Regions from separate parts of the Homo sapiens genome. Here region 1 is linked to region 2. The links come from fine-mapping of genetic effects on gene expression. A gene starts in region 2. The other region holds a variant in brackets. All regions are shown on one strand. Distances are from middle to middle.

Region 1 (15,279 bases), 29 kb before region 2:
AAGTCCAGATGCTCTCGGGATCCAGCCTCTGCTTACCCTGTGGAATACACTCCCCCCAGAATTTCCCTGCCTGCCTCCTCCTCTCCTGGGGGAGTCCTCCCTAATCCGCTGCCCTACCCTGAAGGCTGCCCCTTCCCGCTGGGATCTCTTCTGGACCCACTAATGGAAAGTGGTACCCCTGGCTCCTCCTCCTGGAATAATGGGATCCCCGAGCAGGGAGTGCTGGCGAGGGGCACTCAGGATGTCTTGGGAAGGCAGGCGGTGGGGGTCGGGACTGGGCTTCCTCAGCCACCCTCGGCTGGCACTTCAGGGTAGCCCGAGGCAGGCCCAGGCTCTGCGCCACTCCCCACCTGTGACTGTGGGGTCCCTGAGCCGTGGGCATCTTATCTTGACCGAGTTTTCACCCTTAGGCCCCACCAGGCCCAGCAGAGGCGCAGGGCGCATGCCAGCCAGCCAGGAACCCACCAGGGCAGCCGCATACCAGCTGCAGATGCGCAGGTGAAATGGGAAGCCGCCCTTTGCTCTGGGCCACACCTATGTCAGTGGCGGAAGATCACAAGGGACACCTGGAAGGGGCTAGGTTGGGGTTTGCAGGCTGTGTAACTGGGGGGTGGGAGGGACGGCCCTAAGCAAGCCGCTATGGCGATGAGCTGGCATTGACTCCCTCAAGGGTCCAGCTCCAAAGCCCCCTCCTAGGGCCATTGGCACCTAGCGCCTCCCATCCCCAAAGTGCACCTTCTCTCCAGGCACGGGGGCCACCGTCTAACCCCAGAGGCCCCTCAGGCTCTCCCAAGCCCACTGGTCACAAGTCTCAGGAAGACTCCAAAAAATCCAGACTCCCCAGAGGCCTGGGACCTGGGCCCTCGGCACTCCAGGGCTCCAACTATTCACAGCCCCCGGTGGGCCCCAGATCCCAGATACGGCCCAAGCTCGGTCGCCTTTAATCCCATTAGGTCCCCAAGACTTAGAATGGAGTTTCAACTGGTCCCAGTCCTCTAATCCCCTGGACTGCTGGTTAGGAAAGGCTTCCTTCAGATTTGGGAGCACAGGGTAAACTGAAGGGCAGGCAGGAAGCCTGGGCCCCTTCCCAGGTAGGTTCTGCCCAATGAGCCCCCTCTGGCATCTAAAGTATGTATAAGGACCACCCCCCAACCCCAGGCAGCTCATGGGCCTTCTGCACACACATACTGGAGGGCCAAGGAGCCCCCTCGCTTCTCTGTCCCTTTGTACACAGGGAAGGGGCTCCAGACACACTGGAGGAAGGGCGTGGGGTCCTCTCACCCACCTCCTCCTGCCTCTGACTGTGACTGTGTGTCTGGAGATGGGGTCTTATAAGAAGTAATTAAAGCAGAATGGGGGTATAAGGGTGAGCCCTAATCCCACCTGACTGGGGTCCTTATGAGAGGAGAAGGTGACTCGGGCACACACAGAGGGATGGCCCCATGAGAACACCGGGGAAGGTGATGTCTACAAGCCACGGAGAGAGGCTGCAGGAGGACCCAGCCCTGCAGCACCTTGACCTTGGACTCCAGCCTCCAGGGCTGTGAGGGGATGAATGCCTGCTGTTTAAACTGCCCCACTGTGGTCTTGGTGGTGACAGCGGAGTGGACTCATGTCATCCCCCAGCTCCTCCAAGTGCTCCTCAAGTGTGCTCAACAGAAAATGGTGAGGAGGGAGAGGGTGGTGGGCCAGGCCCTAGGATGCCTGCGGGGTGTGGATGGGTGGGTGAGGGGCACTTCAGGACGGTGGCTGAATGCAGTGGAGTGTGGCTTCAGGCATCCCTGGCCTAGGAGGGGTGGGAAGGAGCAAGCAGTGGTTGGGCTCTGAAGGAAGGGGAGAAGCTTGCGGGAGGGGAGGTGGGGGCGGCCATGGCCCACCCTCCACCGGGCAGGGCCTCAATTGCCATTAGCCTGTCCCCACCTCCCACCCCAGGGCCCCAGGCATCTCTGGCCATCCAGGGGCCAGGCTGTCCCCCAGGGCCTCAGGGCAAGTGGCGTCTCATAGGGGGTCACCATCAAGGAGAGCCCCCTGAGCAGCCCTTCCCTGGCTCTCACACACAGTCCCTCCCTGTCCTGCTGCGGCGCTGCTGTCAGGTTTCACACGTTTTATGGGGGAGTTCAATGTAAGCCAGATGCGCGCTGACAGCCACGGCACAGGTGATGACAAGGCAGGGCTTCCCTGGCACATGTGCCTCTTGTTAGTGTGCCCTCCGAGGCGCTTACCCCACCAGCCTGGGGCAGCGTGCACAGCCGGCTGGGCACGCGGCCACTCCGGGGCACATGTGTCGCACTGGAACATGCTGCTGGCCCAGAAGCCTCCTGGAGACATCACCTCTGCGGTGGTCCCAGCCGGGGCCTGGGAAGCCACAGCCAGGCCCCAGCACAGGAGGTCATCCCTATTTCACAGTGGGGGAAACTGAGGCTGGAGGAGGCAGGAGGCCCATCCAACACGGTTTATGGCGGAGGAGCGGTGGTCTTGCCCTCGCTTCTGTCTACATAGCAGCTTCCAGGATTACCTCTCACCTCCCTGGCTGGCACTGAATGTGCCTGGGACCTGACTCATCTCTTCAGGAAGCTACCCCCGAGACCTGCTCCTACTCTCCAGTCCTTCAGGGCCTCGGAAAACCCCTGTTATCCCCCACCCAGCAGCCGCAGCAAGCATCCTGAGATCAGCCTCGACAGCCCCGCTCCCCACATCTGGCTCTCAGCCAAGGGGCCCGTCCTACCCTGCTCCCCACATTCTGCCCATCACCAAGGATCCCGTCCTGCCTTGCCCAGCACAGCTGGCTGCGGGGCCCCGGGGACAGTGCTCCCCCGACCTGCGGTGGCCGGGGGGCTGTGAAGCTTCCTCATTCAACCCATCCATTGCTCCCCTGCCTCTACCCTTGGTGCTCCCCGCCACCTCACGGAAAGTCCAGCCTTCTAGGCGCCTTTTGGCCACCCCTGCCCTGCTCTGCAGCTGGGCTCCGGCCTGAGGCCTCTTAGGACCTGACCCTCCCAATCTGCCTCTGGCCTGTGCTTTGGATGGTTCATTCGTTTATTCTTTGGACGTCCACCATGCACCTCTCACACACACCTGCGGGCCCTGGGGCCGGAGCAGGACCACCCCTGCCAGTGCTAGACAAGCTTGAAACTGTGCCTGTGATCAGAGGCCAGAACCACTAGAAAGGCAAGGCTGGGGCTGGGAGAACCGCAAGGTGGTCCTGATTTAGAGCGCGCAACTGCTCTGAGGAGGATGTTCAGGGGAAGCGTGGGTTGAGGCCTGAAGACTCAAGAGGATTAAGCAGGGAAGAGGAGAGCGTGTGCATGTTTCGGGGGTGGTGCGCCTGGCAGGGCAGGGGAACAGCGGGCGCGAAGGCCCTGAAGTGGGGGGGGAGAGAGAGAGAGAGAGAGAGAGAGAGAGAGAGAGTGAGAGAGTGTGTGTGTGTGTGTGTGTGTGTGTGTGTGTGTGTGTGTGGAAGGCCTGAAGTCCCCCTCCTGCCCGCTAGACCCCTCTCCACTGCCTCTGCCCTCCAGGAGGCTCTATAGCTTCAGATCTGAGGCCAAGAGGGCAGCACACTTGGCCTGGCTCCTCCCCCAGGGCTGCCCAGGCCTGGCTGTTCTTCCTCTCAAGGTGCCCACCGTGCCCGACTGTCTCCCTAGGAGCTGCCAGCAGCAACCTCGGGGGTCCCCTGCTACTCTTTGGGGTCCCTATGCTCTACCTGTATCTTTGCAACTAGAATGAGTCCCCCTCACTAGGGGTACCACCTATGGCTGCTGTCCCTGCCTGACACCGCCCAGGGAAGCCAAGCCGTGGGGAGGGCCTGGGCCAGCCTGTCTGGAAGGAAGCTGAGCAAAGGAGACTGAGGGTTTGTGGGAAAGTGAGGGTCGGGGTCGCAGTGAAGGAGGGCGAGTGTGGGGAGCCCCTGTGTTGAGTGCAGCTGAGAGGCCTGAGTGGGGTCAGTGCTGATGGAGGATGCCCCTTCCCTCTGGACACACAAAGGAGCACTAGGGAAGGCAGAGAGAGGCCTGGGGGTGGGGGTGGGGGTGGGAGTGGATCTCAGAGCTCAGGGCTCTGCTCTTCAGACCCCAGCTGCGGGGCCAGAGCCGTTCTGAGGGACACTGGAGACGTGCAAGGCTGGGTGATGCCTCCTATTTTACAGAGGGGGAAACTGAGGCTCCAGAAGGTAAGGGGCTGGCTCCAGGTGGAGGATGGGCTCAGGTGTGGCTGTGTCCCAGACCCCCTCTTCCCAGGACCCTGGCTGGCTTGCTGCCTGTGGGTGGTCACCAGCCCCCAGCAGGAGCCTCGAGTTTCTGGGCCTCCAGAGGGTGGGTGGGACCAGAGCCACCCCTGCCTCAGGCAAGATGGGGCTGGGGCCCATGGGGCAGGGGAGACCGCCAGGGCAGGGGTCCCCTCCCTGGGCCCCAGTGGGTGGGACAGAGGCCCCCAGGCTCCGGCTGCAAGGCGAGGCCTCGGTGGCGGCCACAATAAATATGTTTGTTCAAGGGAAGCCAGGCTGGGAGCTGTGTGCGCCGGCCCGGTGAGGAAGAAAAGGCCGCTTGTGCCTTGCACACTGGGGCGATTGTTCCTGCTCACGCAACTGCTGCCCCGTGGCCGGAAAGGTCAGACGGCCCTCGGGCCCCGTCGGAAGCACCGGTGCCTCGGGCCCCTTCGCTCGCGCCTGCTGTAACATTCGCCTGCGCTCCTCACTGCCCGGCTGCATCCACATCACCTCCAGGCCTTGGCACGGGGAGAGAAGGTACCAGGCAAGGTCTGAAAGATGGCCCAGCAAAGGCGAGGGAAGAAACGAAGCCAGGAGTCCCCTGCCCAGCCCAGGCGTCAGGAATAGTGTGGAAAGAGGAGGCCCCAGCTGGTGGCCTCAGCACCCTGAGGGAGTGGCTCTGGCCCCGAGGGTCTTCGCAGTGCCCACGGGGCAGCTTGTTTTGTGGACTATTGTTTGGATATTGGGGGATGCCAAGGTGAGGGTTGGGGAGAGGCCCAGGAGCACATGAGAGGTGCCAGCAATGCTCCTGAGGCAAGACCAAGCATCGTCCTCACCCACCAAACAGAAGGCTGAGAGGCACTGCCTGGCCGCAGCCCCGCTTCAGAGCAAATGGAGTCGACAGAGGCCACCACGCAGGCACTCCTGGCTCTCCCACAATTTAAAAACCCTAAAGGGCAAAAATCAGGAACTCAAGCCTGGTTTCCTCCCATTCCTCTGAAGGGGGAGGAAGGAACACAGGAGCCCACGGCTTGCAGGCCACACCTCGCTGGTCCCCTGCTGGCAAGGCGGCCTCCCTCTCCTCTCCTCTCTGCAGGAGACAGCTCTGTGAGATGGCTTCATCCAAAGGGCCCTCAGAATTGTGGTCCTGATGGTGAAGGCTGTGAGCAGCCGCTGCAGTGGTGTGATCAGACGCTCTAGCTGAGTGAGTTACCCACCACTGTCTTCCACCCGGAAGAGCTGGGAGATGGGGCCATAGGAGCCTCCTGGGTGGCTGGCAGAGGGGACAGGGACTCTGGACCAGCCCTCCCCTCCCTTGCTTCAGGCGCCTTTCTCTGGGCCTCAGGCCCTCCTGTGTGCGCTGCTGGGGGTGATTCTAGGAACCTGATCTCCATGACCACAGGGTCCCCCAAAAGATGGGTCTGTTCCGGAGGGCTTGCCTCAAGCAGCGAAGGGGACTCTGACATGGGAGGAAAGCCCTCTCCTGGGTGAGAACCTGGAGCCGCACCTCCTGTCCCGAGAGATGGCCGCCCTGGGTGTCCGCCTTCCCTGTGTCCGGTGCCCGAGTGGGCGTGTGGTGGGCGGCCTGCAGTGCTGGCTCCCTTTCCCAGGCCTCTCCCGCTGACACACAGCCGGAATGTGCCAGACTCACCAAGGCCTGAATTCCCGAGGGGTCTGGCATGCCGACTGTGGGACGAGGGCATTTGGGCATTGTTCTCTCCATGCAACAGTGGGGTGCATGGGCGGTGAGGCCCCTTGGATTCCGCCTGCCACCCTTGGCTTTATGAAGCTGCACCAGGTCTGACTCAGGCCTTGAGGAATTCAGCACCCCCTCGAGTGGGCACAGGGGACTGTACCTAGGGGCTGCCTCCCTCTGCCAGGCTGGGCAACGCAGCCCCTGCCGTGAACAGAGGTGCCTGGCTGCCCTCTCTTTCCCCCAGGTCCCTGAGGACCTTTGGGTCCAAGGTTGAGCTGTGAGGCCAAAGGAAGTGTTTGCTCCCAATGCAGGGCAACAAGGGCCTTCCTTTTCTATGAGCAAAGCTGGGCTCCCAGAGAGCGGCGGCTGGGAGGAGGCTGGGCCGGGGCTCTCATTTCTGTAGTTGGTTCAGCTGGGGGCAGCCTCTGGTCCA[T/A]CTGGCCTGGTGCCCAGCCCTGCTTCTGGCCACAGCCACAGAGGCCTGCCACCAAAACGGCTCCAGCGTCTGTCCCCCATCCCTCCATTCTTCCCTCCTCTGCCCTTCGAAACCACCATTACTGAAGAACCCTGCGTCTCCCAGGGGCAGCCCCTCTTGGACCACCTGCAGCAGTTCATACCATAATCCGCCTCCCCCAGGGTAATGGGGCCTGGATAGGGAGACTCTGTGGCCATACAGGTCTCACCTCTGCACTGGATGCCTAGGGACAAAGTCCACCTGCCTCCTGGGGCCTCCCAGGCCCCCTGCAGTCTGTCTCTGCCAGACCCCACCACGCTGCTATTGACCGGCTCCTCCAGATCACCCCTGCACTCCCCATAAGAGAAAGAGGGAGGAAGGGAGGTTGTGAAGAGCGCAGGACAGAAGCAGAGACAAGGGGGCCGTGGGGAAAGGCCACAAGCCAAGGGAGGTGGGGCCTCCCTTTGAGCTTCCAGTGGGAACCAGCTCTGCTGGCTCCTTGAATGTAGCCCATGTCGGACATCTGACCTCCAGAGCTGTTAGATAATAAACGTGTCACTTAAAGCCACTAAGTTTGTGGGAATTCATTACAGCAGCCGTAAGAAGCTAAAATGGTCCCTCTCAAAACAGTCCTGAATCTACTACTTCCTCCTCGCCCTCCTGGTCCAGCTGCCATCCTCCGCCTGGACTAGTGCAGTGGCCTCCCTCCTGGTCTGCCAGGTCTGTCCCAGCCCCTCAGTGGTCCATTCTTGGCTCTGCAGCCAGAGTGACCCTGTTGCCATCTGCGCCAACCACACCGCACTCGGGGCCAGCCAGGGCTTCACGTGTCCTAGCTCTCGGGGTCCCAGCACATGGGTCTCCTTGCTGTCCTGCCAGCCTGTGGGCCCATCCCCACTTCAGGGCCTTTGCTGTGGCTGTACCCTCTCTCCACAATGCTCTTAGCCCTGACACCATGAGATTCACCTCGCTTTGGGGACACTGTAAGGTCCTCCACGACCCCATCCACAACAGGCCCCTTCCCCAAACCAGCCCTGCCTGTCTTTGTTTTCCCTTCCAAGCACTCTGTAGATAAATACTAAAGTGCAGCTGTCCCTCAGCACCCATGGGGACCTCCCGCAGGTACCCAAATCCACAGGTACTCAAGCCCCCGATACGAAATGGTGTGATACTGACATGGAGGCCACATACATCCTCCCATCTCCAGACCACTTACGATACCTAACAACACAAATGCTGCGTGACCCACTCTATTGTTTAGGGAATAACGACAAGACAAAAAGCCTGTACAAGTTCAGATGTTCAGCACAGATGCAACTTTCTTTCCAAACATTTTCCATCCACAGTTGGTTGAATCCATGGATGCAGAGCCCTTATACGTCTCCCATTGGTGGACATCCCTTTGGAATTTCGTATCAGTTTTGTATTGTCACTGCTGTCCCTGGCACCTGGAGCAGGCATTCAGTATTTGTGGAGTAAATGCCAACACATCTCACTTTAAGGACTTCACTATCTTCTTTCATTTAATCCACCTGGCAGTGCTACAATGTGGGGACTTTATTACCCCCATTGTATAGGTGTGGGCACCGAGGCACAGAGATTTGTCACGTCCAGGGCAGTCACTCGAGCCCGCAGCATGGCCTTAGCCCTGTGGCAGGGGGCTCAAGGGAGAAAGAGCTAGGCCAGACCAGCCCTTGCCCCTAGGCCTTGCTAAGCAGCTTCTCGGCAACAGGTCTGGACCCTCGGCCCCGGGAGAGCCCAGCTCATGGGTTCCTGGCCCGAGCGCCCTTTGTGCCCGCCTGGGGCAGGCGGGGGGTGGGAGTGTGCTACATAAACGGGCTATTGTTCTGTGACTACAGTTGCCAGCCCTGCATGCACAACAGCCCCTGTGTCTGCAGTGGCTCCCAGAACCAATCAACACCTTATCACGAGCATTAATCACCCCGCTATCTGCCCCAAATCAGGCAAACACTTCTGGGGACTTCAAACCCCTGACTGCACAGAAGTTTCTGTGTAATAATAGATTAAGTTTCTGGTGGTTCAGCAGCATCCACTGCGGCCGGCCCTCTGGGGTGCTGAGGGGCCAAGGGCTGCCAGGACCAGGAGGACGCTCTGCTCCGGCCTCAGCTCCTCCTGAGATGCTCCTCCTGCAGCTGGAGCCCTCAGGGACTTCCTGTCCCCCTGGCACTCTGGGCCAGCAGAACCCCATGCCCAACTGGCCACCCTGAGCCTCCGTCCTGTAGGCCAGCTTCTGGGAGGATGCAGTAGGCTCAGGCCCCGTGCCCTCACGCTCCCAAGGCCCGGCTCTGCTGGTGGGCTGTGCCAGAGTGTTTTAGAATCTCCTAGAGGAAGTGACCTGGACCCTAGTGGGCGGGAGGCTAGCAAGCCAGAGGCTGCAGAATTAGTAGGAAGCCAGCCTAGCTCTTGTCACCAAGCACCAACCCCCGGTTCTAGAGTCAAACGCTCGGTAGGTCCTATAGAAAAAGCAGCTAACCAGTTGGCGTTCAGCCGGCTGTGGTCCCCTGAGGGCTGGCGCCGGGTCAGGCATAGCACTGTGAACAAGAGTCCTGGCCCTGGCCTCAGAGCACAGCCACCTGGGGTCGGACTTACCCTACGAGGTGCCAGGAAGAGCCTTGGGAAGCCACAGAGAAGTCAGGGCAGAAGGGTGGGCGAGTGGCCGCTCCAGAGGTGGAGGGGGCAAAAGAGGTGAGGCCTGTGTGAGGGGAGGACAGAACCATCGGAAGTCCTGGAAGGGATTTGTGCAAAGGCCCTGGGCAAGAACACTCTGGAAGGAGCTGAAGGACGAGGAGAAGGCCAGAGTGGCTGGGGAGGGAGGAGGGGAACAGGGAGGCAATGAGGCTGGGAGGTGAGCGGGAGCGGTCACATGAACCTCACGCAGGGTAAGAGGGTTAGATTTTGCACCACATATGATGGAAATGAAGCGCTTTGACTAGCGCGGCCCCGGGGGCCATCAGATGCTCCCTCTGCCTCCACAGCAAAGCCCCACAGTGCCCACAGAGGAACGAATGCCTGGCCACGTCCCTGCCCCTTCATAGTGCAAGACGAGCCCACACCAGGCCAGGTGCTTGGTGTTGTACATCGACACCGTTGTGGAATCCTGGGCTCTGTCTGCTCGCCCTTCTGCATACAGCCCTTCTCCATTCAGCTCACTCTGCCCTAGGAGGCTGATCTCTGCAGGTTATGTCCACAAGCTCCTGGCCCAGGGCTTCAGATTGGGTCTAGCCAACTGGACCCCTGGCAGGAGGCAAGGAGGGAGGAGAGCGGATCCGGGGTGTCTGCTCCTGCTCCCTGCCGTGGAGCTGCTGGGGCCAGTTGTGAGCCTCATGTCAGACAGCCATCATTCTGTTAAGCTCAGGCAACCTCCTCCTCCTCTTTATTCCTCGAGTCTGGGGTAGGATTTCCCCCAGGGACACTACCCCATGTTCCTGCACAAGGCCTGGTGGTCCCTGACACCTGACTCACACAGGAATGATCCTTGGGTGCCGTCCTGCGCCCCACACGTAGCTACCGTGATTGTCCCTGTTTTACAGATGAAGAAACAGAACCTCAGAGAGGGCTTGAGCTGCCCTGGGCCCCTGAGCTGGGATTCAGACCCTGATGTGTCTGCCTCCAGGGCCTGAGCACATCCCCCAAGCTGCCTCCTTGTCCCTAACATCTGTAGACGCTGAGCTTTTGAGGCCTCTGTTGCTCCAGAGCCCCACTGCCCCATGGCTGCTCCTTCCTGAAATCTGGCTTATGTCTGTCTCGCTCCTACAGGGGCAGATATATCACAGGACCTAAGAGGTAGAAGCAAACCTAACAGGGCAGAGGAAAGGGCATAGCACAAACCCCCAACCAAGTGGCTTAAGTGTCCCCTCCCTGCTGCCGACCTCCATGCCCAGGGCCAACCCTTCACCTGGGGGCAGGGACAGGGCTTGGAGAGTCAGGATTGGAGGCAAATGTGTTCCCTTTCTCACTGCTTTTGGGCTTCAAGTGTTCTGCTGGGAGCTACTTGGGAGGGGCCTCTGGAAGGGCAGACCTGGCGCCCATGCCAGTGGGGCACGGGGGATACCTCTCTGCCAAGCAGTGAGGAGATGGGCACAGTCACAGGAGAAGCACATTCCATGGGAAAGCCGGCTTTAAAATCACTATTTCCCCCGTATTAAAGTCAGCTCCTATTCAGGCCAATGCAGAAAAATAAAATTTTGGGGGAAAATATAAACTACTATTCCTCCCTGCTAGGAATGGGTCATCCCCTTTTTCTCTGGCCTCAGTCCACCAGATCTTCACCGGGGTCCCACCCAGTGTCCCTCTGGACTTCTGGCCACCTCCCTCACATCAGCCATGGTGGGGCAGGGGTGGGGTGGGGGACGGCTGGAACCTGCAGTGGGTGGTGTCTCCGCCTGGGGCCTCAGTTTCCCCACTCTGACAGGGCAGCATCCATCTCCTGAGCTGTGTCTGTGCCCTTTTGGAAACCTACTGCTGGCCCAGGAAGAGCACCACCCTCACTCGACACACCGTCTGTGATCTGAGGATGCTGCAGTTCCCCCAAACCCATCCAGGGGCCCTAGGATCCTCAGGTCAGGGGGCCAGGCAGCCACTCCTTCATGAAGACTCCCGCCCATCTTGCCACGTCAGCACACATCTCGTGAGCGAGCTCAGCTTCTCTGGGCCACTGCCCGGGACCCACCCTTGGCCTGCTCCTCTGCCCTGGCCAGCTGGAAGCAATCTGCCTGGAGCAGGCAGGTGGTCCTCCTTAGTGGGCTCCCAAGAGGCCGTCCCCAGCCCTTCACCCACGCAGAGGTGGCTCTGTATGCATGGCTGCCTGGGGCCCCTTCTCTGCCGGAGTGAACCAAGTGCTCTGGAATTCATGAAGAAATCAGGGGTCTTTAGCCTGCTGTTTTTCTTGGCGAGGCCTTATCACAAATTAGTGGGGAAGCCCGAAGGTTAGGGTTTCAGTTAGTTCAGCAGAATCTGAGGAGCGGGGAGTTGGCCTCCTGCCTCTCCAAGTCAGAAAACGCTTGGCCTGTGGGGCCCCAGGGAGCTCTCAGAGCCCAGGATGATTAACCAGGCAGGTGACCTGTGCTTTGGGTGGGGGCGGGGGTGGGGCCTGGGGGAGATAGCTTTCACACAAGCTGACAGGTTTCACAAAGCCCAGTGATCTCTCGTACCTTCCCCAGGCTGCCCTCGGCTGGAGTGCACAGCCTGTGGGCCTGGGGCTTTGGCACTGAAGGCAGGGCAGGGCGCCCAGCCTCATGGAAAGGGTACGTTCGGGAAGGGGGCGAGGGCAAGTCTGACTTGGGTTCCAGGGGCAGCCCTTTGAACTTGGCGACTTCACGTGAATGCACTTCCTAAACCACAGCTAAACGCAGAGGTTCTATATCAGTAGCTCGAAGACGATTGGGGACCCCCAACCGGACAAATGGCAGGTCACCTCCACGCAAAAAGTGGGCTCTTCTGAGGAAAAAGCAGGCCAAGTTGCCTCTCCTGTTTTGGAAGGCAGGAACCCGAAAGCCAAACCACTAAGTATCCACCAGCCACTCACGAACTCAAAAAAGCTGGGAACATTTCTGGCAAGCGCTGGTCCCGTGGCTGAGCCCCCGACCCTGGAGTGTTTCACAAGTCCAGCCGTCTGTCCCGGATGGATTCTGGGAACTTGTCTTAGGCTCACCACTGGGTCTGAGCACAGATGGCCGTCGGCTTCCTCCTGTCTCCACGTCAGGAATCCGTGCCTGCCCCACCCTGCCCTGGCTCTCCCCTGGAGCTGAAACGGGTCCAGCACTGCTTCAAGACGTGAGCTTGTTTAGGAGTCATTGTCTGATGCTTCTCAGACCCTGTGCTTCTCTATTGGGCCCACAGGCTTTTCTTAAACGGACAGGGACCCTGGTGGCACACCAAGTTCCAATCCAGTGGCTCCTGATAGCCACACCAGACCCTGCCCTCGGCACCCTGTCCAGGTTACTGGATCAGTCATCTCTACCCTGTGACAGAGACCACCGTGTTCCCATTTCACAGTTGAGAACGCTGAGGCCTGGTACCTTCCAGTGCCTTGTTCCAGCTCCATACGATGGCCAGAAGCTTCAGCCCAGTGACTCCACCCTCTGTGGGTGAACTGGCCCCTTCCCCCAACTCTGAGCCCTGGTTCTGTTGCCTGTGTCTCCTTGGGCAGGTCCCCACGTCCTCCTCTGTGAGCCCAGGACAATCACAGTGTCGCCTCCTGGGGAGCGAAGTGAGAGGGAAGGGCAAGGCTTGGGTGCAGCTGCAATGGCACCCAAGGGGAGAAGCTGTGTTTCCGCGGGAAGGGGTTCCTAGTGGGGTCCTTCCTAGGTGACAAGGCCCCTTCTGCCCTCAGTGCAGCCACGGCCTTGCAGGACAGCCTGCTCGCTGCCACCCACCACTTCTCTCTCTTTGCCCTCCCACCCTCCTTCCTCCAAGGGCAGTGTTAGCTTGCCAGGGAGGGTTCGAGGCCTAGGGCTGGCGGGACAGGGACCCTGGCTGCCAGCTCCATTCCACTGTGCAGAAACCCAATCCGGGCGGGAGGACGCTGTCACTCCTGAGGATTTAGGGCCGTCACCTGGTGGAGCGGGAGGGCTCTCCTCCCTGACAGAATAAGTGGTTACATGCCGAAAGGTGACACCGCAAAGGGGTCCTGAGCCGGGAGGAGGACTGTATATCATCTGAGCCTGGATCTGTGCGTGTTTTTCTTTCTGTCTTTCCTTCCTGGTCTCCTTGTCGCGGCCCCCTGGCGATCTTACCAGAACGTCCTGGTCCAGATGTGATTCTCTATCAAAAGCCTGGGCCCCCAGGCACCACCGGAGGGGCTGTGTGCAGAGGTGGTGGGGGCTGCATAGATGGAGTACAGGGCTCTGTGTCAGACACAGAGAGCCATGTTCTGATTTCTGCTCCCCCGGTGAAAAGAGTAAATGCCTCCACGCCCACGGCAGATACAAAGGCTGAGATGCCCCATCCCTGCGGCACATCCCCCAACGTGTGACTTCCTCGTCCCGAGGTCCCCCTGGAATCCGTGACTTGCTTTGACCACCATGTCATGAGCAAATGGGACACAGAGAGGCTGGAGTACATGTGCACCGAGTGGCTGGGAACCCTGCGGCCACCAGCGGTTAGTGAGGCCCCACTAGCTAGTAGAGGAGAGGCTGTCTGCCAAGGGTCTTCTCCGGGAGCAAGGCCATCCTAGACCACTCAGCTCGGACCAGTCCACCTGCCCAGCCAACCGCTAGGTGTGAGGGATTCGAGGCTGTTGCTACTTCGAGCTGCTGAGTTTGAGGCTGGCATCCCCTCTTTGGACTTCAGGGTCCTCTCTAAATGCCACTGCCTCCAGGCCCACTGCTACAGTAAGGACAGAACAGCGGACCAGGTGTGGGGCTGCCTGTGTAGGGCTTCCACGTGCCACAGCTGCCAAGTACCACCTGGTCTCACCTAACAGCTCCTCTCTCCCTGCCCATTCAGCAAGAAGGGTATTGTCACATCCCACTTTACAGATGGGGACACCAAGGCTCTGAGACGGAGGGGCTTGCTAGGAGTCTTGAGGGTTGCAGTGTCCCGGGGGAGGCTGCGGAGCCTCCTCGTCCCTCACTTGCCCCAACGGTAAATGGGACAGGGCCGTGGGCACCTTGTCCAGGGCGGCAGGGAGTGGGGTAAGCAGCTGTGGCAGGTGTGTGGAGCACCACGGACAAGCAGCACCACACCCCTCTCAGGCCACCACGGAGGAAGGCGGAGCCAAGAGGAAGGCAGAGCCACAGAGGAAGGCGGAGCCTGTTTTCAGGATCCGTCTGGGATCCCCCCTGTCCTCTCCGCTCAGACCACCCTGGCACGGGAATGGAGGCCAGGAGGCTTTTGGGCCGCAGCTGGCCCACAAGGGTGTGAGGTGAGCCTGCCCCGAGGCACCCCAGGTGGCAGCTGCAGTGCCCAAAGACCTTCATCTGCCAGTTGGTCCTGGGAGTGACACATGCCCCCACCCCCACTCCGCTAAGGCAGCACTTGCCATAGCTCCCACTCAGAAGGGTGGCTCAGATACTGCCTCACAGGGCCCTGGTGTCAGTTGGCTGAGCCTGGTGGGGTAGAGGGAAGGAGGGAGGAAGGGTCTTGGTCACAGGGCACAGCTATCTAGGGGCAGCTTAGCCACCTCACTAAGTTCCAAGAGGCTGCCATAGCCTATTTACTAAACAGGTCATGACTCCCAACCACGTGAGAAGGGAAGCACTCTCGGTCCGCCACTGCCGACCCTGGCTACGGCATCGCTCTCATCAGCTCCCCTAGGACCTCCATGTGGCCAAACCCCACTGCCAGTTCTATTCTCAGCTTCAGTGGGACCCACCAGCCGTGGCTGACATGCTGGCCTCTCCTTCCTTAGAAAAAGCTCCTCCTGGGGGTGACCAAGCCTCCACCTTCCCGATCTCCTTTGTGAGGTCCTCCTTGATCCCTGACCTCTGAATGCTGCAGTCTCTGGGCTCAGTTCCAGGCTGCAGCCCCCATGGTCCAGCACTCAGCTCCCAGGATGGGCTGGCCTTGCCTCGTTCTGTACAAATGTCACTGCCACAGAGAGGCATGCACCCGAGGCCCGCCCTGGCCTCCCATAGTCCTTTCCTATCTTCACCCAGCCTACCTCTCTCCACCTGTCAACACCTGGTAAGATGACACATCACCTGGGACCCCCAAAAGGCAGGAGCATGCTGGCTTTGTGGCTCCCCAGCCCTGACTCACCAAGCTCAGGACCTCAGGATCCAAGCTTGATCCCAGGGGCACAGGGCTTCCCATACCCTGTGCCTGCCAGGACCATAGTAGGCTGTCTGTGTGGGCCCTGCGACCCCATGGAGGTGAGGCGGCCACCAAATGGAGGACAGGAAAGCTCGGCATGTGCCTCCCAGGGGCAGGGGGTGTGCGTAGGGACAGGCTCCTTGGGCTTGGGGTGAGGGT
Region 2 (15,279 bases):
GGTCCCTTTGCTGCCTGCCTGGCCCACCAGGGGGATAAGCCTGGGCTCCACCTCCAGCCTCCTCAGCCCCACCCTCCTCGGGGGCTGTGGGTGCCCTGAAGAGAAGTTACAAAGAAAAGAAAGGAGCAGGGAGCAAAACAGAAACGCCAGCAAGGAGCCTCAGGACCACGTGCCTAAGTGAGCTCCCAATTCACTGCTTTGCCAAGTTCCGCTCAGCCATGCCAGCGGCCCGGGCCGCAGACACCAGTGAGGAAAGGGATCCTGTTGAGAAGAGTGTCAAAGTCAAGTCTCCAAAGCGGCTGCTGAAGAAGTGTGCACGGTGGGTTCAGGAGCTCTCTCCCTACTGAGGAAAGAGTCACAGAGGACTCCCCAGCCCAGTTCCATAAAAAACAATGTTGTGTTCAAGTGGAACAATTCATGAGCGTGGTCTCCTGGGTGCCCCCGATCTTGGCCATCTGTTTGGGAAATCTTGGGAAACAGGGGAACAGCCCTGAGGGGCCTGGTGCTTTGGGAGGTTGGCTGCCCACACCACCTCCTCGACCTGTGCACATTCACCCGGCCACACACAGGAACTCTGGGGGGTGGCACATGCAGGTTCGGCGCTCAAGAAGCCAAATGTGGGCCAAGGCACACCTGCCCTGTCCCCCATGCTCCATGAAAGGAGCTGCCTCTGCAAACAGGGGCTGTGTCCCTCACACCAAGGCCGTGTGGCAGAGGGGGAGGGATAGACCCTGGCTCCAGGATACCCAGGTGCAGCCCAGCTCTAGTAGCTTCTACATCCTAAGGCCTGCCCAATCCCTTGACCTTGCTATGCCTCAGTTTTCCCATCTCTACAGTGGGTGGTAGTGTGGATGAAGCCCTCAGAACCATGCCTGACATACTAAGTGCTACAGGACTAATTGGGAGATAAACAAAGCCTCCCTGCTTGGAGTGTGCCAGTGCACATCCATTTATCGCTCTCCTGGGTCCAGGCTGCTCTGAGAGCCTGGCAGGTCTCAGAGCTGGACCTATGAACTGACGGCCCAGAACACCAGCTAGGAGTAAGGTTGGAGGCAGGGGCTGCCTGGGGGTGGGGTGGGGGCACAGTCCCCAAAAGGGAGGGCTCTTGGAAGAGTGGTGGCAGCTCTGTGCCCAGGCAGGGCCTGACTAGGGCAGTTCTGTCCTGTTCTGTAACTTGCCTCCTGAGGGCTAAAGGAATTTCTCAACACTGCAATGTCTGCTTTTTATTCCAGTGGACGTTACAGCAGAAGCAATCCCTGCTTCTGGCACAGGCCTGTCCCCAAGACCCAGGGATAAGAGAAAAACAGTAGTGAGCTTTGGTGCTACTTCTCATCCACCTACAGCATCCCATCACCACCCCATCACACCTGCTCCCCCTTCTCTGTGGCTGACCCCAAGAGGGCCCTTTGACATTCCTGGGCATAGAAAACAAATTTGGGACAGAAGTGGCTGTTGAGAACCCCGCTCCTGGTCCTTGTGGGTGCTGCCCTTAGCCTTATCCATGTCCCAAGGAAATGGATTTGGTGTTCTCTTGGGGAGAAAAGGTCACCCGTTACATTTCCTAAATCACATTCCAACTGTCAGTTTCTCCCACCCATCACGCACCCTCTCCACCCACTCCACCCAAAATGCCACAGCTCTCTGCTGCCTTAGAGACTGCAGGAGTCAAAACCGCTCTCCTTTCTGGGAGTGGGACCTGCACCGGGGAGTGGTTCTCACGAGGAGCCTAGGTTAAGAGCCACTGGTCTGGTGGGCAGAGTTCAAACTCTGCAAGAGCAAAGACATGCTATGTATGCCTGGGGTGGGCATGCTACCTGGGCACAGTACTCTTTCTCCTGGGAGCCACCAACCATCAGTAAAAGCCAACAGGTAGGCTGAGCCCACTTTGCTGCCCCTGACAAGGGTCAGACTAAGCCTGGTGAGAGTGGGTGGCTCTGTCAGCTGGCCTTTGCTGTGTGACAAGTCACCCTACAGCTTCATTCCTAAAGCAGCCCACATTTATCATCCCACATGGTTTCTGTGGGCGAGGGATCTGGGGGTGGCTTGGCTGGGTGGTTCTGATCTCCTGTGAGGCTGCAGTCAAGGTGTAGACCAGGGCTGCTGTCTCATCAGAGGTTTGACTGGGGCTGGAGGATCCACTCCCAAGCTCATACAGGAGGCCATTTATAGGAGGCCTCAGTTCCTCACCACAGGACCTCTCCAGAGGGCTGCTAGTGTCCTCACACCATGGTGGCTGGCTTCCCCCAAAATCAGTGATCCCAGTGAGAGGGCAGGGAGGCTGCAAGGCCTAGTCTTGGAAGTCATGCTCTGTCACTTCTTCCATATTTTATTTGAAAGAAGCAAATCACAGTCCAGCCAAAACTTAATTAGAGGGGAATTAAGTGCCACTTCCGGAAGAACGGATTGTCAAAGGCCTTGTAGACACATACTAAAACCACCACAGCCACACGGTACCCCAGGTAGGTTTCCCTTTCTTTCCCATTCTTGTCTTTTTCCTCCAAATTACATCCATCTTCTGAGCCTGCCTAGCTTGATTAGAATATTCTCTTCAGGTTCTCTAAGGACCTTTACTGCCAATGACTCTGCACCCACTGCTCACCAGAGGCCTGGTGGGTTTCATTTCAGCAGCCTCACCCTCTACAAGTACAGAGCTGGGAATGGAGTAGGCTCTCTGCAAATATCTGTTCTCACTACAAATACCGATCCAGGGCCTTTTAATGCGTAAAACAAACTATAACCACCAGAGCGACAGGGATGGGGCTTTTTGTTAACACCTCTCCCAGGACTCAAGAGATAATCAGAAACAACTTCCCAGGTTGGCCCTGGCTGTGGCAATGTCCTCAAAGGCCTGGGCCCACTTTTCCCTGGCAGGCTGAGGGGATTGTTCTTGGCTGGGGGGCAGCTGTGGAAGTGGCAGGCCTGCACAGGAAGGGGGGCACACACCCCGAGCTTGGGATGCTTTGTGGGAGGAAGCTGCCTCTGGAAGGTGGTGGTAGAAAAGGCCCTGCAGGCAATGGGTCTGGCAGGCCCAGTTCACTTCATTTTCCCACCCCCCCGTGCCTGGCACCCAACCAGGCCCCAAGCAGGTGCTCAGGAGACAGCTGCTGAGTTAACCCGCGTCGAAGTGGGGGCTCTGGGAGAGTTGGGTTCGGCTAATCAAGGCTTGGCTGAGCAATGCCCAAACATATACACACACAGCACAGCTGCCCTCCCAATGGGAACTGGCCCACACCCCGTGCTGCCACTCATGGAGACCGCCTGAACTCCAGACCCCCCACCCGTCTGGCCTCACGTTATCACTGACCCCAAATGCAGGAACGCAAATCTGCCTGTGAGGACAGGCTGGGAGTGACCCTAACACAGCACTGTTGTCTGAGGGCATTCCCCGAGCAGCCCATGCTGAGGCTGCTCTTGCATGGGGGCTGAGACTGTCCTGGAATGGGGGATTCCCTGAGGGAGCAGGACCTGCATCTGTCACACTCTGTCAGCCTGAGCCGTGTGCCTCTCCCTGGGCCTTGGGTAGCTAAGACGGCAATGGACACCACAAACAGGCCATGCCACAGGGTGACAGTGCCCCAGAGCCACAGAGTTGTCACTGCAGCTGGGTGGAGGGATAGGGTCTGACCCCACTATATCCAAGCCAGATCTTCAGAAACCCTCCAAACCCGTCCTTCCCTTGGGCTCGCTCGTGGTCATACATGCACTAGGCTGCTACCCCTGTTGGATGCTGAGGGCTACCTTAAGCTCCTCCCTGTCCTCAGCCAGAAGTCTAGACAAAGTTGCCGCCTGAGGGAGCCCAGCCTGGCACTTCTCACACCTCCACAGATGCTCGCTTTCTCCAACCCTCCCATCTCTCTCACTGGGTGACGGCAAGTCCCCCGTAGTCTTCCCCCTCACCCTGCTGCCTCTCTTCAGTTCTCTCTCTGTTCAGCAGCCAGAGTGACCTTTCTAGAAGGGAGATCTGATCCTTGGCACTGCCTTGCCCAAAACCTCCTAGAGACTCCCCACTGTGCCTCCCCTCTGACGACAGCCTACAAGGCCCAAAAGGACCCAGAGCCTGCCCATCCTGGTGGGGATGTGATTTGGGTGGGGACATGAGTCCATGCCACCTGTGGGTACAGCAGAGACCTGGGGCAGGAAGTCAAGTAAACATGTCTCAAAGGAATAGCCGTCTCATGGGCTCAGTGGGAACAGAGTTGACAACAGGCCCATGTACCTGAAACCATCAAGTTGGAAGGGAAGCCCCAGTGGAATGCAGGTGCAGGCGACACACAGGCCACAGGAGGCGGAAGATTCTGGAACAAGGACATGGGCTGCAGGGTCAGCAGAAACCTATGACCAGTGAAGGAAGAAGGTGGGCGTTGCAGGATCACAGAGCCCTTACCCAGGACAGCTGCAGTGGTGGGTGTGTGGACCAATGCATGCAAAAAGCCTCACTGAAGGGGACCGAGGAGGGGCCACAGACTGCCAACTGCAAGGGCTGACCTTAAGAGCAGGCTTCCTGGCAATGCATCAGCCACTCAGGGATAACCCTGAGGTCCTAACCACCCCCACTCCCCCACGTTCCTGTCCACTCCTGAGAGCAGCGTGGGGTGGGGCCTTTCTTCAGATGGACTGCGGAGGCTGCCACGTGGCCCTGGGCCTCTCAGCTTCCGAGGGAAGCAGCAACTTGGGAACCTGGCTGGGTCTGAAGATGGTTCCACCCTTAGACTCCGAGGGTGGGGGCAGGGTAGGGAGAGAATTGAGGCCCACAGAACTCCTTGGCCAGGGCCTGCCACACATCCTGCTGCTTGGGTGAGGGGCTCCCACAGCAGTTCTTTCTCCTGCCTTGCACTGCAGAAGAGGACTGGTGTTTCCCCTGGGACACCGCCGGGGCTCTGGGCCCCATCTGCACTTCTGTGCTGGCAAATGCAAAAGAATTAGCTCAGCAACTTCCTCCCCTAATCCCCCACCCCCACTCTAAATACCTTGGAATCAAGAGAAAAGCCGAGTGGACGTTTTGAGCCTAATTCTCTTCAGCTGTGAGTGCGTGTGTGCGTGCGTGCTCTCGGGTGCACAGGCTTGCAAGGGAACCTTTTGAACCCCAAAGAGTAAAGCTGGAGGGAGTGCAAGGAACGCTAGCTCAGCCCCTACCATGTACAGATGAGGCAAACCAGACACAAAAGGAGAATGGGACCTGCCCTCTGTCACGTGGGGAGCTCAGGGAGTGGCCACCAGGTGCCCAGGCTCTCTGTCTCACACCCACCCCTGCAGCCTTGAGTCCCAAGAAGGTGACAAGGTGCAGGCGCCAAATTTCAAAGCCTTCCACAACCCACAGAACAATTCAGAAAGGGAGCTGGCCGTGACTGCAGCCCCCTCCCAGAATTCTGCCATGGTGCCCAAGGCCAGCCCTGGGCTCACCTCCCAGCCTGCCTGGCAGCCCCCATCTGCCTCTGGGGCTGGCCTGGAGTCCGCCCAGCCTCACATGCTTCTCTAGCCAATTCCCACGTGTCTCTTGTCGCCCGACGAGACAACAAACCCCTCTCAGTCTCGGCCTGTTTTCCTCTCCACTCTTCCCCCAAAGGACTAGAGGAGGCGGGAGTGGGGGCACACAACAGGTGCGCTGGGCTGGCAGGCGGCGCTGGCTGATTGACGGCACCCCGTGTGTGGCGAGGGGGTGAGGAGCAGAGGACATAGGACACAGAACTGTCCTTCCTGACCACGTCTGGTGAGCTGGTCACAAACAATAGTGACAGGCTCCTTGGCCTGGCAACCCCACTGCTAAGAGTACTCAAGGAGACCTCACACAAGCACACAAGGTGAGGTGCCCATGGAATATCACAGGCGGGGAATTTGTCAGGGAAAAATCCAAGTGCCCAGGAGCTTGGGGTCTGAGGTTCCAGGGTTAGGTAGAGGGTGGAGGCAAGCCCAGAACATGAAAATCTATATAAATGAATCAACTACTTGTAAGATATGTCCCCATCCAGGCCCACAATTAGAACCCACAGTTTTGTTAAGTGTAAGACCAAATAAGCTCAATTTTCATGACTTTACAAATCAGTTTTCAAGATAAAAATCCTAACCAACACCCTTTGTCACTCTTTAGTAGGAGGGTGGACACCATTTTAAGTGAAATTGATTTAGGGAGCTTTTCAGCCTGTGTTCGACATCCTTGGAGAACACAACAACAAAGGCTGGGAGACAGCTCTGTGTCCAAGAGCGAGGACTGAAGGAGTCCACCAGGCTACCTCCTCCATCTGATGCAGCTAACAAAGGCCCAAAGAAAAATGGCCACGTTTCGAAAATCTGTCTTTCCCACCAGAATGTAAACCCCACATGAGTGGGACTTTTATTCTGGTGAAATCTGTGAAATGACTCTGAAGACCTGGGATCCTGCTCCCCTGACCTCCTGGGGAGGTAGAAATGGACATGCAGGGAGGGTGATCAGGGGAGGATTCTGGCCTCCTGAGGAAGGCTGAGGAAGGCCAGAGGAGGCCTGGGGGCCACAGTGAGGCTGGAATTGAGCTGCACCCCAAGCAGCAAAAAGGAGCAGGACAGGGGCCTGAGGCCACCCTCAACTCAACATTCCTGACCCTGTCTTCTCACATAATCTCTCTCGTTTCCTATCTCAATGGCTCCAAGAGGCTGTCAGCATCACCTCCATCCTACAGGCGGGGAAATGAGACTTGCAGGTATCTCTGCATTGCAGAGTCCAGGCCAGGGTCAGGACTCCAGCCCTGCCCTGCTCTTTTTGGTCAGGGGCAGAGAATAATAGTGGTCACTGAGTGGGAGTTGTGATCCTTTGGATGTCAAGAGAGAGGCTGGGCACAGAGGAAGCAGGCAGACAGGCAGCTGATAATCTGTCCTGAGGAGGCAGGAAGGTGGGAAAGCCACTTGGGAGCTGAAGTTCCAAGCTCCATTTTCCCCTCAGACTTCACTTCTAAAACACAAGTTCAAAGATAGTAACTATCAAGAATTTCAAGACAGTGACATTATAGCGTGAAACCCTGAGTCTGGGGTGCACCTGAGCACTGGCTCTGAGTGATGGCACTGGTTGCACAGCTGCCTCTCGGACAGGCAGATGACAAAAACTTCCCAGCTAGATAGTGAGGGTGGACTGCGCCCTCTGATCAGACACATGAACTCCCTGGGCCAGTGCGAAGGGACAGGCGCCCAGGGGATGTGTCACTTGTGCCCAGATTGCCTGTGGGCTGAGCAGGAGGCAGGGAGTGGACTCATCTGGGCGTCGTTGCTGAAGGCCTGAAAGGAATCACTTGCTGCCTGAAAAAATGACACCATTTTCTCTTTCTCTTCTGGGCTGAAGAACAACAAAACCCCCAACCCGGTCACCCTTGGAGAGAGATTCCTGGCTCTCCCGTAGACGTATATTTTCGGCAGAGGCAGTGAAGATGAATGGCCTCCTTGCGTGCCTTGGTGGGGGGACGGCTGGCTCGCTTGGCTGGCTCCAGCCTCCCCCTTCCTCCTGTGTTTGAGGTCAACCCTGGGTTGGGGTTGTAACAACTTTCGAGAACATACCCAGAGTCCTGCATTCCAACACTGTTTTTGCAGTCCACATGGAAGGGCCAAACGGCCCCCAGCCTTGCCAGGGAAGCCTCAGGGTGTGAACTTCTAGAGGGGGCTTTTGTGACCCAGGCTTTTGTCCCCGGAGTTTATGGCAATGCTTGGCATTCAGAAGGCGCGCGCCAGCGGCGCGGAGGGGACGGACAAGGGGAGGGGCCGGCAGACGCGGTCAAGTGTCACGCCCGGATGGGGGATGGGAGGTGGGCAGGGCGGGCCCGGCCGGGCGCTGGCAGGCGCGGGGCGCCCTCGGCGCTGCCCTTTGCCAGGTGGGTGGCCTGGCATGTCCCGGCCACCCCTGCCACTCACCCCCTGAGGTCCCAAGTCCTCAGGGGTGAGCGGCAGACACGGGTGTTCCAGGCACAGCAGTGGGGGCTTCAGAACATCCCGATCCCCTGCATGGACCCGCTGGGAGGGGGGAAAACGCCTCCCGCACCCGGTGCCACGGCGGTGGAGACCTTGCCCGGGTTCGAGGGTCGCTGCAGCGGCGCCGGCGGAGGGGCTGGTCTCGGGCGTGGCCTGGACGCCCACAGGCCTCCACACCGAGGGCCCACAGCAGTGTCGGGGTGCGGCCGCTGTCCTCACGCGGTCACCCCGGGGTGGTGAACACATCACGCAGAGAACTGGCCCGTGTCTCCAGCTCACCCCGGCGATGCCAACGCTGAGGCTGGCGCTGGCCCCGGCCCCCGGTGGTGCTCAGGGACGACGGGTGGGGGCAGGGAGGGCGGCGGCTCGCGCCACCTCACACCCAGCCAGTGCCTCATGCGGCGCTGGACCCGCTGGGCCAATCTGAGCCCGGGTGGCATCAAAACGAGACTCTTTCGGCCAATGACAGGACACGGCACATCACTTTCCGCACCCAGCCAATCCGTGCAGCAGCCCGCCGCAAGCCTTCCCCTGCTGCCGCCCAATCAGCAGGTGGGGGGCGGTCGCCACGTCGGCAGCGGCGGGGGCAGTCGGAGCGCTGCCGCAGTCTCCAGGCAGAACGGTCGCCGCGTCGCCTCAGCACGGACCTCCAGGGAGCTCCTCAGCAAGATCCTGCCAGGGCGCCCCTCAGCGCGATTCTGCCGGGGTGCCTCTCAGCGTGGTCCTCCCCGGGGCTCCTCAGCACGATTCTCCCGGTGCGCCCCTCAGCGCGGTCCTCCTCGGTGCGTCAGTCATCGTGGTTCTCCCCGGCGCGCCCCTCGGCGCGGTTCTCCTCGGGGCTCCTCAGCGCGGCGCTCTTCTGGGGGCTCCTCGGCGCAGTTCTCCCCGGGGACTCCTCGGCGCCGTTCTCCTCGGGGCACCCGGGGCTTTTCGGCGCGGTTCTCCCCGGGGGTTCTTCGGCGCGGTTGTCCCCGGGGGTTCTTCGGCGCGGTTCTCTCCGGGGGCCTCTCGCCGCGGTTCTGTTCTCCCCGGGGGCTCCTCAGCATGGTTCTCCTCCGCGCGGTCCTCCCTGGGCCTCCTCAGCGCGGCACTCTCCTGGGGGCTCCTCAGCGCGGCACTCTCCCCGGGGGCTCCTCAGCGCGGCACTCTCCCGGCGGCTCCTCAGTGCGGTTCTCCCAGACTCTCCTCAGCGCGGCCCTCCCCATCTCTCTGGGAGGGTTTGAACACGGTCAGCACGGACCTGGGCGGACGGCGCGGGACGGGTGATCACTGGCGTTGCTGAGGTGAGCTGTGTGCCCCGCGGCCGTCCCAGATCACAGGCGTCAGCAGTGCAGCCTGGCCTGGGCAGTGCGCTCCCATCTGCACCTTATGGACAGCGTGGCCAGGGTCGAGGTCCGAGTTCCTGGCCGCGTCCCAAGGATCGGATTCCGGGTCTATAGTTCTCATGGTGGTTCAGAGTGGGCTGAATTGGGATTGGAGTCTGGAATCCGCATCGTGGTTCTGAGTCCGCGCTATTGGGATGGAAGTTGGGAATCCATGTTGTGGTTTTGAGTCAAAGCCCGAATTGGGACCGGAGTCGGAAATCCACTTAGTGGTTCTGAGTCAGGGCCCGAATTAGGATCGGAGGTGGGAATCCCCGTTGTGGTTCTGAGTTAGGTATCCTAGTTGGGATCAGAATTCGGGTCTAGGGTCCACATCCTGGCTGGGAGTTTGCCTGAGTTGGGATCTGAGTAGTTGGGGTCCCAGTCAGTCCGGGTCTGGAGTCCGCATGGTGGTTTTAGGTAGGGCCTCATTAGGGACAGAGGATCGGGAGTCTGAGTTGGGGACCTGAATCCCGGTCTGGAGTCTGCATCATGGCTCTGAGTTGAGATCCAAGGGAGGTCCGAGTTGGCGACTGGAGTCAGGGTCTGGAGTCTGTCTTTGGGTAGAGGTTCTGAATGGGGGGCTCTGAGTTAAGAGATTGGGATTGGGGTTAGAGGTCTCAGTGGGGTATGGGAGTCAGGAATTGAAGTCGAAGTTCTGCCTCTAGGTGGGGATTCTGAGTCAGGAATTAGGGGGCGAAGTAAAGGTTGCAGTCTGAGTTGGGGGTGGTGATCACCTGCCAGGTGAGAGGTAGTGGTAGAAGTCTCTTGGTCATATTGGAGATGAGAGTTGATCAGATGCAGGTCTCAGTCTGGGTAGTAGGCTTGAAGGGCCACCACTATGTTCAGATCCCAGTACCCCACTGTGGTCCCTGAGCAGGTCAAATAGCCTTTTATATAAAATTGAGAGTAAGAGTGCCTTCCCACAGCACTGTTCTGGTTATGAAAGAGAATAATTCATCCAGGTAGAATAGTTCTGTCTTAGATTATCACAAAGTATAAAAACTTTCCTGATAATATCCACATTTGATGTGCATTTACCAGTTCTTTCTTTACTGTGGTGCCCCTTTTGCTAGACCAAAAGCTCCCAACGAGGAACTCTGTTTTGTTTTCTGCTGCCTGCTCTGTACCCAGCCAAGAGCCTGATACACAGCCTTACTCAGTCAGTACTTGAAGGAAAGCAGGCAGGCAGGATTAACCAGATTTCTATGGTGTCTCAAATGATCCATTTCTGCACCTGTTTTCCAGATACTCAGTAGGAGAAAAATTTAAGGATTGAGTTGCTTGATTATGGGTGTATTTTAATGTGTTTCCTAACATGCTGAGGAGAAAAGTGGGTCTGTTTCAGGATTTATGCTCCAGCTAGAGGGATTTTTTAAAATTGCGAATCAGAGCATGTCCAAATTCAGATAGAAAGCACAAGAAAACTATAAAGAATTTCCCTTATGAATGTAGATGCAGAAGTTCCTTGTACAATGCTAGCTAACTGAATCCAATAATATGTATTAAACAACAATTCTTAAACAAGTGGGATTGCTCTTAGGAATGCAAAGATGATCCAATATCAGAAACTTTATCCATGTAATTCACATTAAGAGGCTACAGGAGAAAAACCATATGGTTCCCTCAATAGAGGCAGAAAAAAATGATGTGATAAAGTTTAACGCCTATGTGTGATTTTGGGGTAGTGGAGTACACCACTTAGCAAGCCAGGACTAGAGAGGAACTTCTTCAACTTGATACAAGTTATAAACCAAAACTTAACTTTTCAGTAAACTTGATAGAGAAATTAAAAGTGTATCATTCTCTTTAAGATAAGGAGTAGGCCAAGGATGTCATCCTGGCCATACCCTAATACAAGAAAAAGAAATGGGGATGTGAGGATCAGGTAGGAAGTGATAAAACTTAGTGTAGCTCATAGGGTTGATGGTCTCCATAAAGATTCTCAAACATTTTGGTGTTACGACTTGTTGTATTCTTAAAAGTTATTGAAACCCCCAAAGGGCTTTTCTTGATAGAGATTCTATCTGTTGATAGTTACCATCTTAGAAGTTAAAACTAAGAAATGTTTAAAGCAGAACTATACAAGCACATATTCCACTGGGGTCATGGTGTGCTGCCTCTGGAAAACTCTTTATCTTTGTGAGAATGAAAGAAAAGGCAAATAATGTCGAGTATTATTATGAAAATGTTTTTGACCTTTCCTGAAAGGGTCTGGGGGGCTCTCTGGAATCCCCAGACTACACTTTGAAAATTACTGGGCTACATGGAAAAAAAAAATTAAGGAACTTAACAACTAAAGAGAGATTTCAGATTTCAGAGAGGTTTTGGATATAAGATCAGTGTACTCAAAACAAAAAACAAAAACAAACCACATTTCTTTATGCCAATAGCAACTGACTAAAAAAAAGCATAATAGAGATTAGGACAGCAATCAGAATAGCAGCAAAATTTATACCAGTCTAGGAATTAACAAAGACGACGACTTTTATGGAAAAAATTTTAAAACTCTATTGGAGGATATAGAGGGAGATCTTTCCATATGCAGAGACATTTTATTTTCTTGAACAGGGCAACTTGGCATTAGAATGACGTCAGGATTTTCCAAATCTGTTAAGTTCAACAGGACTCCACTCAAACTTCCAGTTGGAGGGCTTGAGTAATTTAACAAACATATTCTAAAATGTATGTGGAAGAAAAATATTTGTAAATGCCAACTGAACTTTTGAAAAGGAGAGCAGAGGACTTCTGCTGGCAGATACCAGGGCACACGCCAACTTCAGCAATCAGAGCGGTGTGGTGACAGAGGCCCAGAAGAGAGCTCAGAGGTAACTCCAAGTCTAGAGGAAGGGGACATGTGATAAAGGTGGCACCACATATCAGTGGGGACTGTTCAGAAGATGATGTTGGAAAGCCAGCCCTAAAATGGAGGAATAGGAATATGGATTCCTAACTGAGCCCCTAGGAAAAGTAGACTCCAAATGGACTAAATATTTGAAAGCAAAAGGTAGTTGCCATTTGTTTAATAGGAGAAAAAATGAATAATCTCCAGGGCCAGGGTGGCCGTGGGGTTCTTAAACAGGATCCAGAAAGCACAAACCTCAAGACTAAAATGTATGAACTTGAATGCATTAATGATTATGGATTAAGGATTTCTGTTAAATAAATCCATCATGGCAAGGGTCAAGACTGTTTTCATAATAATACTAAGGAAACAATTTGCGTTTTTCACTTTTACACTCATGAATGTAACTTTGCCATGACTCATTACAAGATATTTGAAACAATTAAAGCTGAGGAGGGAACAACAGCTAAAATATACCAGAAAGCACCACAAATCATTAAGAAAAAGGTAGGAAGATTGCCAGTTTGCAGGAGGGTTAACAAACAGATGAAAATTTGCCCAAGCTAATCAGTTATCAGAGAAATGTAAATGAAAGCAACAGCTATTCTTCATAGGAGAAGCATTAGAAAGTAGGATAAGGCCAAGTGTTGGCAGAAGGCAAGGAACAAGCCTCCCTGTGTGCTGCAGGTGGGGACGGAGACAGGCACAGACGTTCTGAAGAGCTGGCCAACACTTCTTCCTCAAATAAAATATTTTATACCTGTGGCCCAGCAGTTTCCCTCCTAAGTAAACATGCTGGAGCAGTTCTCACCCAGAACAACGAGAGGCTGTGTGTGTGCATGCTCAGGGCAGCATGGCCCATAGGGGTGGGCAGTTGGAGCTGGTCACTGTGGTTAGGAGCAGGGGACTAGATGTACACTTCACAAGATAGAGACGCGTGGAAACACAGTGCTGAGTGACACAAATGCCAAACAGAAAGAGGGCCTCAGTACATGACTGTGTATTTAAATTAAAATTACACACCACCCAGACACGCAGTACTAGGGAGTGCTCGTGAGTGCACACACACACACACAATGATATAAATAAATTACCCTGGAGAAGCTGTTTGTGTAGGGAGGAGAGCAAGGATAGAGGCTAGAGATGAAGTGGAAAAGCATGGAGAGGAAGAGAGCGGTGACTTTATGCAGACCCTTACAGGGTGACAGTGTTTCATAGGCTGAGGGCTGTGATCAACTCTGTGCAGAGTCCCAAAAGCCAAGAACCAACGAATGAATGTGCCTCCATGACTCTCCTGCCAGATACCCTCTAGTGGCTTCTATTTCTAGGAAATAAAATTCAAATTCCATCAGGTTTTTACAAGATCTGCCCTGCTTACCTCTCTGACCACTGTCCTCCCTCACTGAGCTTTGGCTCTGCCAGCCTTCTTCTTCTTTGTTAAATCTGCCAAGTATCCCTCCTGCCCCAAGGCCTTCACCACCTCTGCCTGGCTTGTCTTTTCTGGTGATCTTCCCTTGACAATTCCTTCTTCTTATTTAAATCTCACAGGAAATTTTGCTCTGACCTGCCATATCTGTCATCCCCTTCAGTCACTCACTAGCTGACGACTACCTTTCGAGTCTCTGCAAAGCACAGGCTACGCTTTTCTAGTTCCTTAGACATCTACTTATTTGTTGGCTGCCTATCTCTTCCACCGGAAGAGAGGCCCCAAGAGAGCATATCTGTCTTCCGTATAGGGTCCGCACATGGTGGGTGTGTCACAGATTTCTGTTGAATGGTTTCATTCATTTATTGAACGAAGGAAGAGGCCAGGCCAGGAAAGTGTGCCTCCATTTTCACAACTCAGTGAGAAAGCAAATAGCATGTCAAAATCTGACCCCTTGCAACCAGGGTTTCTTAGCCAGCCACACTGGTAATGCTTGGGACAGGATGTATCTTTGTTGTGAGGGGCTGTCATTTATATTGTAAGATGTTTAGCACCCTGCCTGGTCTCTACCTAGTTGATATTAGTAATTCTCCCATAGTCATGATAGCCAAAAATATCTCCAGACATTGCCATATGTCCCCTGGGGGGCACCGCAGATGACAACCACTTCCTTAGAACAGCTCTTGGGACTGGGATGGTGTCTCTGCTGTGGCTCTTTAAAGGCAGCAGGCCCTGGCTTGCATCCTGCCACATCTAACACCTATAGCCTCACCACCTCGGTGAGAAAGACCCTGGCCCAGGCCTGGCCAATCAGAGTACCCTCTTCCCTGGTCAGCAGTATAATTTGTTTGGCAAGCACTTCCAGTCCCACAACCTATGGGCTGCCACCCAGAGGTTTAGTTGGAACTACGTGTCAGCTGCCGTCCCTCAGCCATCTATGGCATGGGCACCTGTGGCTTGACCAAGTTGGAGGTGGCCTAGAGAGGCCGGGCTGGGCCTGCTCACCTTCTCCAGTTAGTGCAGACTGATGAATGAGTGGTTCTCAGCGGATACCGGATCCAGGTTTGCAGTACACTCCAGGAGGAGGACGAGTAGGGTTTCCCTCAGAGCAGGCCTGGATGGGAGGGCAAGGGGTGGCCTCTAATACTGCCTTTCCTTCCGGTGCCTTTATCAGCCTGTGCCATGCTCCTCTGAACTGGCCGGCCCCAGCATGTCCAGGTTACTGGCAGGAGCCTGTATAACCCAGGGTTCCAGTCACACCAGCCAGGAAGGCCCATGAGGCTGGAGCGCACCCAGTCTCTGGCTGCTCTGTCTGCGGAACTAAAAGCCTTTCTCCCAGAGCCTTTCCTACGGCTGGGCGAAGCTCTTGTTTGCAATTTAAATGTGGCCTCATTTATGGAAGAATCCCTGCTCCTCCGAAAAGCCTTGGGCTCAACCTCCCTAGCAGCCCGGGCCTCAGCCAGGAGAAGAAATGGATCTAAAAGGCCTTTCTCCTGCTAATTGTAGCAATTAGCATTAGAGAATGGGGACTCGATGGGGGGCCAGCGCCTGGCAAAACAAGCTTATTCCCAGCTTAGGCCCAGGCCCAGCTCCACACACTGCTGCTTGGCCAGACTCGGCCCCCACCCAGGGTCTGGTTGGCTTCAGGGCAGGGAGAGAGGGCCCAGGCCTGTGGGTGCTAAGAGCAGTTGTGGAGGGTGTGCATCTGAGTTGTTAAGCCTGGT

Alleles and levels. Alleles are on the strand shown, and positions count from the first base shown. SD is a standard deviation of normalised expression in the study named.
In carriers of allele A in region 1, the expression in pancreas of the gene that starts at base 8,540 in region 2 tends to be higher than with T alone (small effect, 0.30 SD a copy in GTEx).

The links.
Region 1: its variant is fine-mapped to the expression of KCNQ1OT1 in pancreas (GTEx, PIP 0.99).

Annotation. Positions count from the first base shown.
Region 1 is chr11:2,721,952-2,737,230 of GRCh38, reverse strand. All of the region lies in intron 11 of KCNQ1 (potassium voltage-gated channel subfamily Q member 1), which reads right to left. Among named protein-coding and RNA genes, the nearest start is that of KCNQ1OT1, 30 kb to the right of the region's middle. RefSeq lists a cis regulatory region at 443 and enhancers at 359-528, 2,045-2,546, 5,314-5,483, 11,329-12,324, 12,500-13,399 and 1 more. The variant T/A (reference allele first, on the strand shown) is at 6,331.
Region 2 is chr11:2,693,255-2,708,533 of GRCh38, reverse strand. KCNQ1OT1 (KCNQ1 opposite strand/antisense transcript 1) reads left to right here and starts at 8,540. Exons shown (of 1, transcript NR_002728.4): 1 at 8,540-15,279. The region is part of intron 11 of KCNQ1 (potassium voltage-gated channel subfamily Q member 1); the gene reads right to left. RefSeq lists silencers at 153-323, 8,057-8,126, 8,137-8,406 and enhancers at 7,100-8,339, 14,796-15,279.